Linked DNA regions of Homo sapiens. The protein of the gene in region 2 purifies or fractionates together with the protein of the main gene of each other region. This does not show direct contact. Each region holds a gene or a part of one and is shown on either strand. Other genes may lie near its edges.

Region 1 (3,734 bases), on a different chromosome or scaffold from region 2:
GGACAGCAATGGGTCTCCTGGGTGAGCAAAGATGATGAGTGAGTAGAGCTGGGTAGAGTGGGGTGGTTAGTCTTCACCTGCCACCTCTGCCAAGACAGCTTGGACTGCCCTATGGGGCAGCCTGCAGCATGGCTGGTACCACCTGGGCACCTGCTCCAGGGTGAGGAGTGTGGAGAGTGTTGGTCCCGCAAGACCAGGAGGCAGGGAGATGTGGGTTCTAACCCCACTGCAATCCAGCTGGTGACATCCAGCAACACTTTCTACTTTTCAGAGCCTGTACTGTCACCTGTCAAATGGGAATGACAATAAAAGATACCATTTATCCACCACCTACTGTGTGCCAGGCTTCTGTACATGGATGTTACGCAGCTCTGGGAGGCTGGCACTGTCATTGTCCCCATCGTATGGATAGTGAGATGGAATGAATGCTGGGATGGCAGAATGAATGAATGGTGTGCTGGGTTGTGCACCAAAAACACAGTGGAGAAGAGGCTGAAACCTGGCGCTCCACACTCTGACCCCTGGCAGCCCATGGGCAGGTCAGGCTGGGCTGCCAAAGGGAAGAAGCCAAGGACGCACGTCAGGGCCTGGAGGAGGGGCCGGGCCTGTGGCCTTGGGAGTTCAGGACTCACTTCCTGCCGCCGGGTCTTTTGCGTCCCAGTGTTCCGAGAACTGGATTCCAGCCAGTTCCAAGGCTTGGGAGGGCCTGATGCCCGGTGGCTCTAAGCACAGGTTCTGGAGGCAGCCTGGGTTTGAAGCCGTTCCCCTACGCCCAGGCTGTGGGACCCTGGCAAGCCACCTTCCCTCTCTGGTCCTCAGTGTTCCTCACCTGTAACCACAGGAGGACAACGGCGCCTGCTGGAGGACTGGGTCACATGTGGCCTATCGTGAGCAGGGCTGGCACACAGAAGGCACGTGGCAGATGGTAGCGGGCACTGTGCTGATGGCTACTCCACCCCCACCTCCACCTGCTGGGATCCCAGGGGGACTCACCATGCTGGGAGATCCGGGCATGGGGTGGCCCAACAGGGGCTGGGGGCCCAGGGGGGCCAGGAGGCCCTGGTGGCCCAGGAGGTCCCCTCTCTCCAGGGGTGCCCACAGCTCCAGCCCGGCCAGGGCTCCCTGGGGGGCCCTGTGGACCTGCAATGGAATCACACGGATTTGTGGGTATACAGGAGGCAAGGAGGCCCAGGGTGGCCTTGAGCGACAGGACAAGGCAGCCTGGAGCAGTGGGCATGAGAGAGGGCCCCGGAGTCCACAGGCCTAGGCTGCCTGGTAGTCTAACAGGGGGATGAGCACAGCACCTAGTTCTCCACCTCGTCCAGGCTGAGTCTTCCTTCCTTGGGGCTCCCAAACCCCCAAAACCCCTCATAGAAACCCTGGTCACATGGGGCAAGCATTGCTGCTTCTCCTCTGCCCAGCCCTGCTCCCAGCAGCATGGAAGCTCCAGAAGGGCAGGGACATGTCTGACCCCACCCAGTGCCCAGCTCAGAGCCTGATAAGTGTAGGTGCCCAGGGAATGTGGGTCAGTGAACATAAGAGAGGACTTCATGGAGCCCAGGCGTGGGCAGGGCACTCCGTGGTGGGGTGCTGAGTGAAGAGGCAAGTAGATGAAAGGGCCCAGGTCATCCTGGCCATGTCAGGAGCAGGGAAGGGCCCACCTGGTGGAGGGGATGGCCAGAGGAGCTGTGGGGCAGCATTGCGGGCACTCACCTGGTGGGCCTCTCATCCCCATTGGGCCCCGACTGCCGGCATCTCCCTTGGGGCCGGTGGGCCCGGGAAGCCCCCAAGCACCGACTTGGTCTGGGGGGTAAAGCATATCAGACTGGCAGCTCCACATCTGCTCTTGACCCCCACCCTGGCCCCAGCCCCCCAACCAGCATCTACCATTTCGGGGAAGCAGCGGGACCCTCACACTCTCTATGGCTCCTGGCAGCCCTGGGGTGGGGGGGGTAGGCAGAGGTCAGTGTCCCTGCTGGGCCTGGAGGAGGGAGGCTCATCCAGAATCCCCACTCCCAGCTCCCCCCGACCTCCAGGCAGGGTCTGCTGGGGCTGCTTGGTCTCCAGGGACTGCAGCATTCAGGAGTCCCAGGAGACGGTCCTCTTAGGCGGGTCTAAGAAACGGGAAATGGGAAGACTGAGGCCCACTAGAGGGTTAAGTTGGGAGTCAGCGACAGGGTGGGGACCAGAATCCCACTTCCCCGATTCCCAACCCACTGCTCATTCCCACAGGGGAGTCTGAGTCTGACACTCACCCTGGAGGCCTCCATCTCCGGGGCTGCCCTGGGCAGGAGGGGGACCCCAGAGCGGGGCAGGGTCCTCAGGGGTAGCTGGTGTTGGAGGTACTGGCTGCTCTATGACAGTCAGCATGGTCATCTGAAGAGGAAGACAGGGACGGGGTGGGTACCAGGGTCTCACTAGGACCCCTCCCTATTTTTTTTGAGATGGAGTTTTGCTCTGTTGCCCAGGCTAGAATGCAGTAGTACTATGACGGCTCATGCAGCCTCAACCACCCGGGCTTAAGCGATCCTTCTGCCTCAGCCTTCCAAGTAGCTGGGACCACAGGGATGCACCACCACACATGGCAAATTTAAAAAAAAATTATTTGTAGAGACGAGGTCTCGCTATGTTGCCCAGGCTGGTCTTGAACTCCTGGGCTCAAGCAATCATCTTGCCTCAGCCTCCCAAAGTGTTGGGATTACAGGCATGAGCCAGGGTCTCACCACGGACAGGCCAGCCAAGGGGCCTGGTGTGGGAGGCAGGAGGCACATGGCCAGCAGGGCCCAGCTTGGAGTGGAGCCCCAGGCTCGCAGGGGCACCGAACTTCATCAGAAGTGACAGTGTTTTTCAAAGCACACAATTCATAACACGCATTATGGAAAAGTCACTGACACCATCATTGCCATCAAAGTTGAGCTTTGTGACTGTCGCGGTGCTTGCTGGGCCATGTGCTTTTTCTCTATGGTTATCCAAATAAGAAGCTTGTCTTGATTTCTTAAAGCACCACAGGGTATGGCTGGAAGAGTTTCACTTAGTTTGTTTTTTTGTTTTTTTTTTTTCCAAGATGGAGAGCCTTGCTCTGTTGCCCAGGCTGGAGTGTAGTGGCACGATCTCGGCTCACTGCAACCTCCGCCTCCCGGGTTCAAGTGATTCTCCTGCCTCAGCCTCCAGAGTAACTGGGATTACAGTCATGCGCCACCACACCTAGCTAATTTTTGTATTTTTAGTAGAGATGGGGTTTGACCACATTGGCCAGGCTGGTCTCAAACTCCTGACCTGAAGTGATCTGCTTATCTCAGCCTCCCAAAGTGTTGGGATTACAGGCGTGAGCCACCACTCCCGGCCTTTCACTAAATTTGGAAGGAAGTTTGGAAGAGTCTGACATGAAATAGAAACCTGGAGGTGTACACAAAGTCCACTTTTGGGCCCATGGTGAGGAAGACTCTGGGAAGCTGGAAGTGTCCCCTCAGCTGCTGAGGACCAACGAAAGGCCAGATGACCACAGATCAGGGGCTCAGGGATCGTGGGGGCCTGTCCAGAGAAAAGCTGAAACTCTCTGGCAGATCCTGAACCAGGAATTCCCATCAAGATGTGGGACTGAGTTGCCTCTTACATGGGCTTCTCCTGGGAGGGAGCTCAGGGAACTGCTCCTGGAACCCCGTGCCTTGTAACTCAGGTGCCAGCACACGCTATTTGGAAGCTTGGTTTTCCCATTTGATAAATCAGGGGCATCT
Region 2 (3,734 bases):
TAATTCTATATATCTCAAATAAATACATATGAACACAATTCACTTTCTAAATTACTTATATGGACATATTTAATTATTTCTGGTGTTTAGAAAATTTAGAATAAAGATCATCATCACTTAGGTACAATTTAACAAAATTTAAACTTTAGATTAAACAAAACTTAACTTTTAGAAAAAACACAAACAAAATTTAATCTTTAAAATAAGACTATCCTCAAATAATTTTATTGCTCTCCACAGCATTACCTTCCAAAGTCAATTTCTTTTCAAAGCTCCAAAGGAAATCAAGCACCTTAAGAAGTATCTGAGTACCCATATCAAAACCTATTTTTGGAAGTTTAGATAGCCATGATAAACTCACTGCAGTATGAAAAAAATAAAGTAGCACTGAGTGTGGCACCACATCTATACCTGGGCAAGCCATGCATCTGCTGGAGACTCAAGCCAAAATGGTGTAGAGCTGCTGAAAAATTATATCATTAGGAAAAGGAATTAATTCAATTTGGGTTGCTTTGTATTGTACAATTCCAAAAGAAATAAGCTTTGCCCTCTGAGAGCTTTCCTAAAACAGAACAGTTCTACCTGGAAGGCAGCTGCATGAATGAGCCTCCATTAACACAGCTTCCAAAACCTCATTTCTACTCTCTTGAGAAAAAAAGCATTCCAGTGTGATGCCCAGTTCTATCAAACATTTATCATCACCCAATACCAGATGCAGCATCCAAAGGAAGCATATTTCTCTCACACACCCACCAGCAGATGAAGTTGAGGGGTTTGTTGACATGGGTACTGGGTGTAGCTTCTGGTTGAAAGCCAGAGTGGAGGTCTTTTCACTAATCCGTCAGTTCACATAATATGGAAAACAAAATTCATCTCTCGACTCATTATTTTTTTTTCTTCAGGAGTACAAGAATGATTGCAGGTCTATTTGACGTTTATATTTATGGCAGGGAACTTTAAAGAAAATTCCAGCTCAAGGTGAATTCTGTGAGAGAGTGCTGATCTAGAAGAAGAAATGAGCCTCCCTCAAAGGAAAACTGAGGAAAAACCGGAGACAACAGGAGTAGTTCTCTAACTATGAACAATGCCAATTTCAAGGCACAGAATGCAGCTGAGATGCCAGGTAATTTAAGTTCTAACACCTCACAACCTGTGAGAAAGAGCATAAAGTTTTGCAGGGTGAAGTAATTTTATAGTGTCAAGAAGGAAGCCCAGATCCTGAGACCTGAGCTGCTCTTTTACTGTGTGGCTGGCTCATTTCTTGCAGGTCACACAGAAAAAACGTTACTGCATAAAATTTAAACAAGTAAATGTCTGTTTTTAATCCCTTTTGCACATTATAATATACGCCTTTATGAGATGACTGTATAAAATCTAGTATTTTTGGAGAAATTTTGAGATATAATTTGCATATATTCTGAAACCGTTGGTAAACTGAGTAAATTAGAGAAGTTAAATCCAAGCACCACAAAATGTCAGACCCATTAGTTCAAAGAAATAGTGGCAGATACAACCATTAAGATACAAAAAGATTTGGAGAGCATGGTACCACAAGAACATGACTCATTAGGAACAAGCAGCCACAAGTTGGCATTTAAATGTTCAGGCTTTATGTTGTGTTATAATTCAGCATATGGCTGTGTGCACTGTGGAATACTTAAAATAGAATCATTTTCTGAACTGACAGGACAGCTCATGTCCTGATTATTGTCAACTAGGATTTAGATCAATTAATAGAGTAGTTAAAATGAAAGTGGGCCAACTGTTTTGGAACTACGGTAAGATTTGGCATGAGGCTCCAACTTTGACATGTGGTAGTCCCCTCCCCTACTCTGAGCCATGTGTTAAAGAATATTTTATGACTACTTGTGTGAGTACAGTTGGGTGACATTGCCACCCAAGTCCATAACAGTGAATACGGATGGCTGGGTCCTTACTAAAGGATGTACACTATATAAGGAGAGTAATGCCCAGAATCCAATCTTCAGAGGGCAATGGAAATATAATTGATGAAAATAAGAGTCCACAACAACACCTCTTTATTTCCATTGCCAGGTAATTACAAAAGCCAAAGGATGCAAAGTTACAACCATCATCTAACGTTTCCATACTGAGAAACCCACCAAGGACCAAATGTTCCCATATCCCTACTGCTATTCAACTGACATTAATGATTTCTAGATATGCAAACTCCTTGAGCGCAGGAGGTTTTTTTGGCTTTGGTTTTGATGTCTGTACCCACCTACTGGACATAACCTGACACAGAACCTCTCAATAAAGGCTTGCAGAATAAAAGAATTAGGTTACTTTTTTCCAGCCAAGTTCTTCTCTTCCCAACATTGAGTTATTGAGTTTCAAGCATAGAGTCTCTCAGTGAAACAACTCTGCAGCCCAGAGTGCAACTACCCTAACTCACCCATAAATAAAACATATTGTCTATCAAATGAGCCTCTTCAATGTAACCTGTTAAATAGCATTTATAGGAAAAACCCGGGATTCAGCGTTTGTGGGAATGGCTAAAATCACATGGAGAGTGATGGGACACAGACTAAAGCTCAATTCTCTTAACCTCCAATTCAATGATGTTTCCCTATCCCAAGGCAACTGTCTTATCTACTGTAACTTCACAGGACTTCCATATGTCAACAGAACTCAAGATATTTCTCCAGAAAAAGCCATGGTAGAGTTTCTGTGATTCAGAAAGCAGCCATGTTAGAAGCTTCTTTGTGACTTCTTGATTTTATTAAGTTCTCAAGTCATAGCATTAATACTTTACCAGTTTAGCAATATAAGGCCATATAAAATAACACTGCCAATAATTTGCTTGTAAAAATTTATTTTTCTTTTGATATTTCTTTTGATAAAATTTAGAGGCCAGGCACAGTGGCTCACACCTGTAATCCTAGCACTTTAAAAGGCCAAGGCAGGCAGTTCACTTGAGGTCAGCAGTTCAAGACCAGCCTGGCCAACATGGTGAAACTCTGTCTCTACTAAAAATGTGAAAATTGGCTGGGCATGGTGGCGCACATCTGTAATCCCAGCTACTCAGGAGGGTGAGACATGAGAATCGCTTGAGGCCAGGGGGCAGAGGCAGCAATGAGCTGAGATTGCACCACTGCACTCTAGCCTGGGTGATAGAGCAAGACTGTGCCTCAAAAAAAAAATAATAAAAATAATAAAATTTAGAACCAGAAAATTGCAATTGACCACTAATAATGCAGCAAATACTGATCTCTTTTTCTTCTATGTTTGATGATTAGCCAAAGTATCTTAGAGCTATCACGTAATGTACCTCATTTAGTAAATGACAGAACTATAGCGCAAAGAGGTTAGATGGTTCATTCAAGGTTAGTGAGCTAATCAGAGGCCAGTCCACCAGTTAAGCTTAATTCAAAATAATATAATTTGGCAATACTGTTCATCTGACCAATTTTTTGAGCACTTAGTGTATACTAGGAGCTGAACTGAAGATATCAGAATTAATAGGAGCCATCCTAACCCCTCAATAAGCACACAGCTAAGTGAGGAAGACCAAACCCATACCAACCACAATTGTTCTCTCTGTGCACTGAGAAGAAAACGACAAATTCTGCCATAAGCTGGTCAGCAAAGGTGTCACAAGGTACATCCCATCAAAAGAAGTATACATGTGAATGTCTCTTTTCTATTTTTAAAAATTATTCTCTAGGCTGATAATAAAAACTTGAGGAGATTTCTAAGATCCTTGAGGTTTC
Region 3 (2,403 bases), on a different chromosome or scaffold from region 2:
AACAAAAGAGTATCTAAGAGACCAGAGAGAACACTGTGCCTCTGTTTAGAAGTATAACAAGGACATGGATGAAGCTGGAAACCATCATTCTCAGCACACTATCGCAAGGACAAAAAACCAAATATCGCATGTTCTCACTCATAGGTTGGAATTGAACAATGGACACAGGAAGGGGAACATCACACACCAGGGCCTGTTGTGGGGTGGGGGGAGGCGGGAGGGATAGCATTTGGAGATATACCTAATGTTAAATGACGAGTTACTGGGTGCAGCACACCAACATGACACATGTATACATATGTAACTAACCTGCACGTTGTGCATACGTACCCTAGAACTTACAGTATAATTTAAAAAAAAAAGAAGTATAACGAGGACAGTTTAGATGCTTGAAAAAAAAATCTGCTACAAAGCTAAAGAGGGAAAAAAGATAAAAACTATAGATACACTGTGTTGAAAATAATGCAAAGTTCTACATGAACAAAGCAGAGGGTAATGTATCAAAGTGCAAAAGGCAGTTTTATTAAGAATTATGGGGATTTTATTTTTCAGAAGTCCACATTTTCTGAAGTGTGGTTATTTTGCCTGCATAATTTAAAAAGCATACTGAAAGCATTTCATAAACGATAGCACTCCGTATAAAGTATGATCACCAAGAGGGCAGCTTATTCTTGCTTAGGACTAAGTAGAAATAACATTCATTCAAGATTAACTCTGTCTTCCTGTCTCTGAAGAGTGTTGGGACAGGGAGAGCCGCCTTTTCCAGGGTTTGCAAAACAGCTCCATGTGGGACCACCATGGAGCCCGTCTCCCTGGGCTTCAGCTTCCCCTCTCCAGTGGGTGCTGGGAGGGGCTTCTTCTGTGACCTGGGCTGGTGACTGGTGCTACATAGTGAGAAGCCCTGCAGGGCAGCCTCACCAGCCCAGGGTGGCCCTGCCCAGCCCTGGTCAGTGAAGAGGAGCTTCCAGACACACCCATCCTGATGTTGTGCCCATCTTCCCTGAATGCACTGGGCACCTGCCTGGTAGCTCCCAATTTCTCACTAGGGGCTAAATGGCAAGAGGTGATGTTGGCATGTTAGGATCTGGCTACAATGATGCTGGGCCGTGCTGTGACAGCTGTGGGAATGCCCCTGACTGCACTGTCACTAAACACACAGCTCTGCAGTAGAGCTATTTACATGAGTTAAGTCCAGGAAATTCACTTTTTCCAAATGCCCACCACCCAAGATTATTCTCCTCTCTAGCAATATAATAATGTTCACTGGAAAGTGATGCTAGTCATAATTCTTGTTTTATTATTATTCTGAAAATAATAGTTTATGGAGGAAACTCCTGATTAAAGCCGTGTCAGGAGCCCGTCCGAGGATACAACAGTTGATATACCTCCTTTTAATTTCACACAGGGTCTTGCTTTGTCACCCAGGCTGCAGTGCAGTGCTGTGAATCATGGCTCACTGCAGCCTTGACCTCCTAGGCTCAAATGATCCTCCCACCTCAGCCTCCTGAGTAGCTGGGACCACAGGGACATGCCGCCACATCTGGCTAATTTTTGCATTTTTTGTAGAGACGAGGTCTCACCATGTTGTCCAGGCTGGTCCTAGACTCCTGGGCTCAAGTGATCCCCTTGCCTTGGCCTCCCACAGTGTTAAGATTACAGGTGTGAGCCATGGCACCCAACGATATCCCTTCTTTTTATTGGCAAGAAAGATCTTTCCCCTTGTCAACAACTTCCAGGCCCATCAAGGAAAACAGGTGGCAAGACTACCTCAAATGACTCTCAACACTCCTCCTGGAGTGTGGCCCTTCTGGGGAGGTGACTGACTTTAACTAGAGGAGGCACCCTGGCATGCAGACCTGATGGGGGTGATAAGGCAAGGCTCCCACACCTGGAGGAAGGTGGTCTGGATCTAGGAGCCAGGGAGGACCAGGGTGCTTTCCTTGTTGAGTAGCTCAGAAAGCAGCTACTGACACCAAAGCACATCATGTTAGTTTCGAGGTTTGCTCCCCAGGGAGAAATTCCTGCCAGCTCTGGGGGGAACCACGCACAAGAGCTTTGCCACATCCAGCGCGTCGATGGGATCCACGTCCCTCAGTCCAGCATCCCCTGCACCCAGCAGGCTGCCAGGCACGTAGTATGTGCTGAGCAGGTGTTTGTTGAACTGGATGGCCAAGGGCTTCCCCTCGCTGTGCAGCCTCTGGTGCTCAGTGAGGTGCGAGCTCCAGTTGAACATCTCCCCACATTTCTCACACTTAAACGACTTCTCCCCGGAGTGGATTTTCTGATGTTTAATGAGACAGTGGTTCTGGCTGAAGGCTCTGCCGCACTCGCTGCACTTGTAGGGCTTCTCACCGGTGTGGATGCGCTGGTGCACGATGAGGGACGAGTGGCAGCTGAAGGCCT

What was found.
Region 1: the proteins of FRAS1 (region 2) and EMID1 purify together in Homo sapiens (co-immunoprecipitation; one large-scale study listed by IntAct). This does not show direct contact.
Region 3: the proteins of FRAS1 (region 2) and ZNF74 purify together in Homo sapiens (co-immunoprecipitation; one large-scale study listed by IntAct). This does not show direct contact.

The regions. Positions count from the first base shown.
Region 1 is NC_000022.11:29,229,662-29,233,395, reverse strand, and holds part of EMID1 (EMI domain-containing protein 1 isoform 1 precursor), read right to left. Parts: intron 2,377-3,734; coding exon 2,256-2,376; intron 2,115-2,255; exon of another isoform or gene 2,080-2,114; coding exon of another isoform or gene 2,031-2,079; intron 1,939-2,030; coding exon of another isoform or gene 1,888-1,938; intron 1,804-1,887; coding exon 1,714-1,803; intron 1,141-1,713; coding exon 994-1,140; intron 830-993; exon of another isoform or gene 633-829; intron 18-632; coding exon 1-17.
Region 2 is NC_000004.12:78,060,285-78,064,018, reverse strand, and holds part of FRAS1 (extracellular matrix organizing protein FRAS1 isoform 1 precursor), read right to left. Parts: intron 1-3,734. UniProt on the Homo sapiens protein: Involved in extracellular matrix organization. Required for the regulation of epidermal-basement membrane adhesion responsible for proper organogenesis during embryonic development. Involved in brain organization and function.
Region 3 is NC_000022.11:20,406,553-20,408,955, reverse strand, and holds the end of ZNF74 (zinc finger protein 74), read right to left. Parts: coding exon 1,988-2,403; 3' UTR 501-1,987; downstream 1-500. UniProt on the Homo sapiens protein: May play a role in RNA metabolism.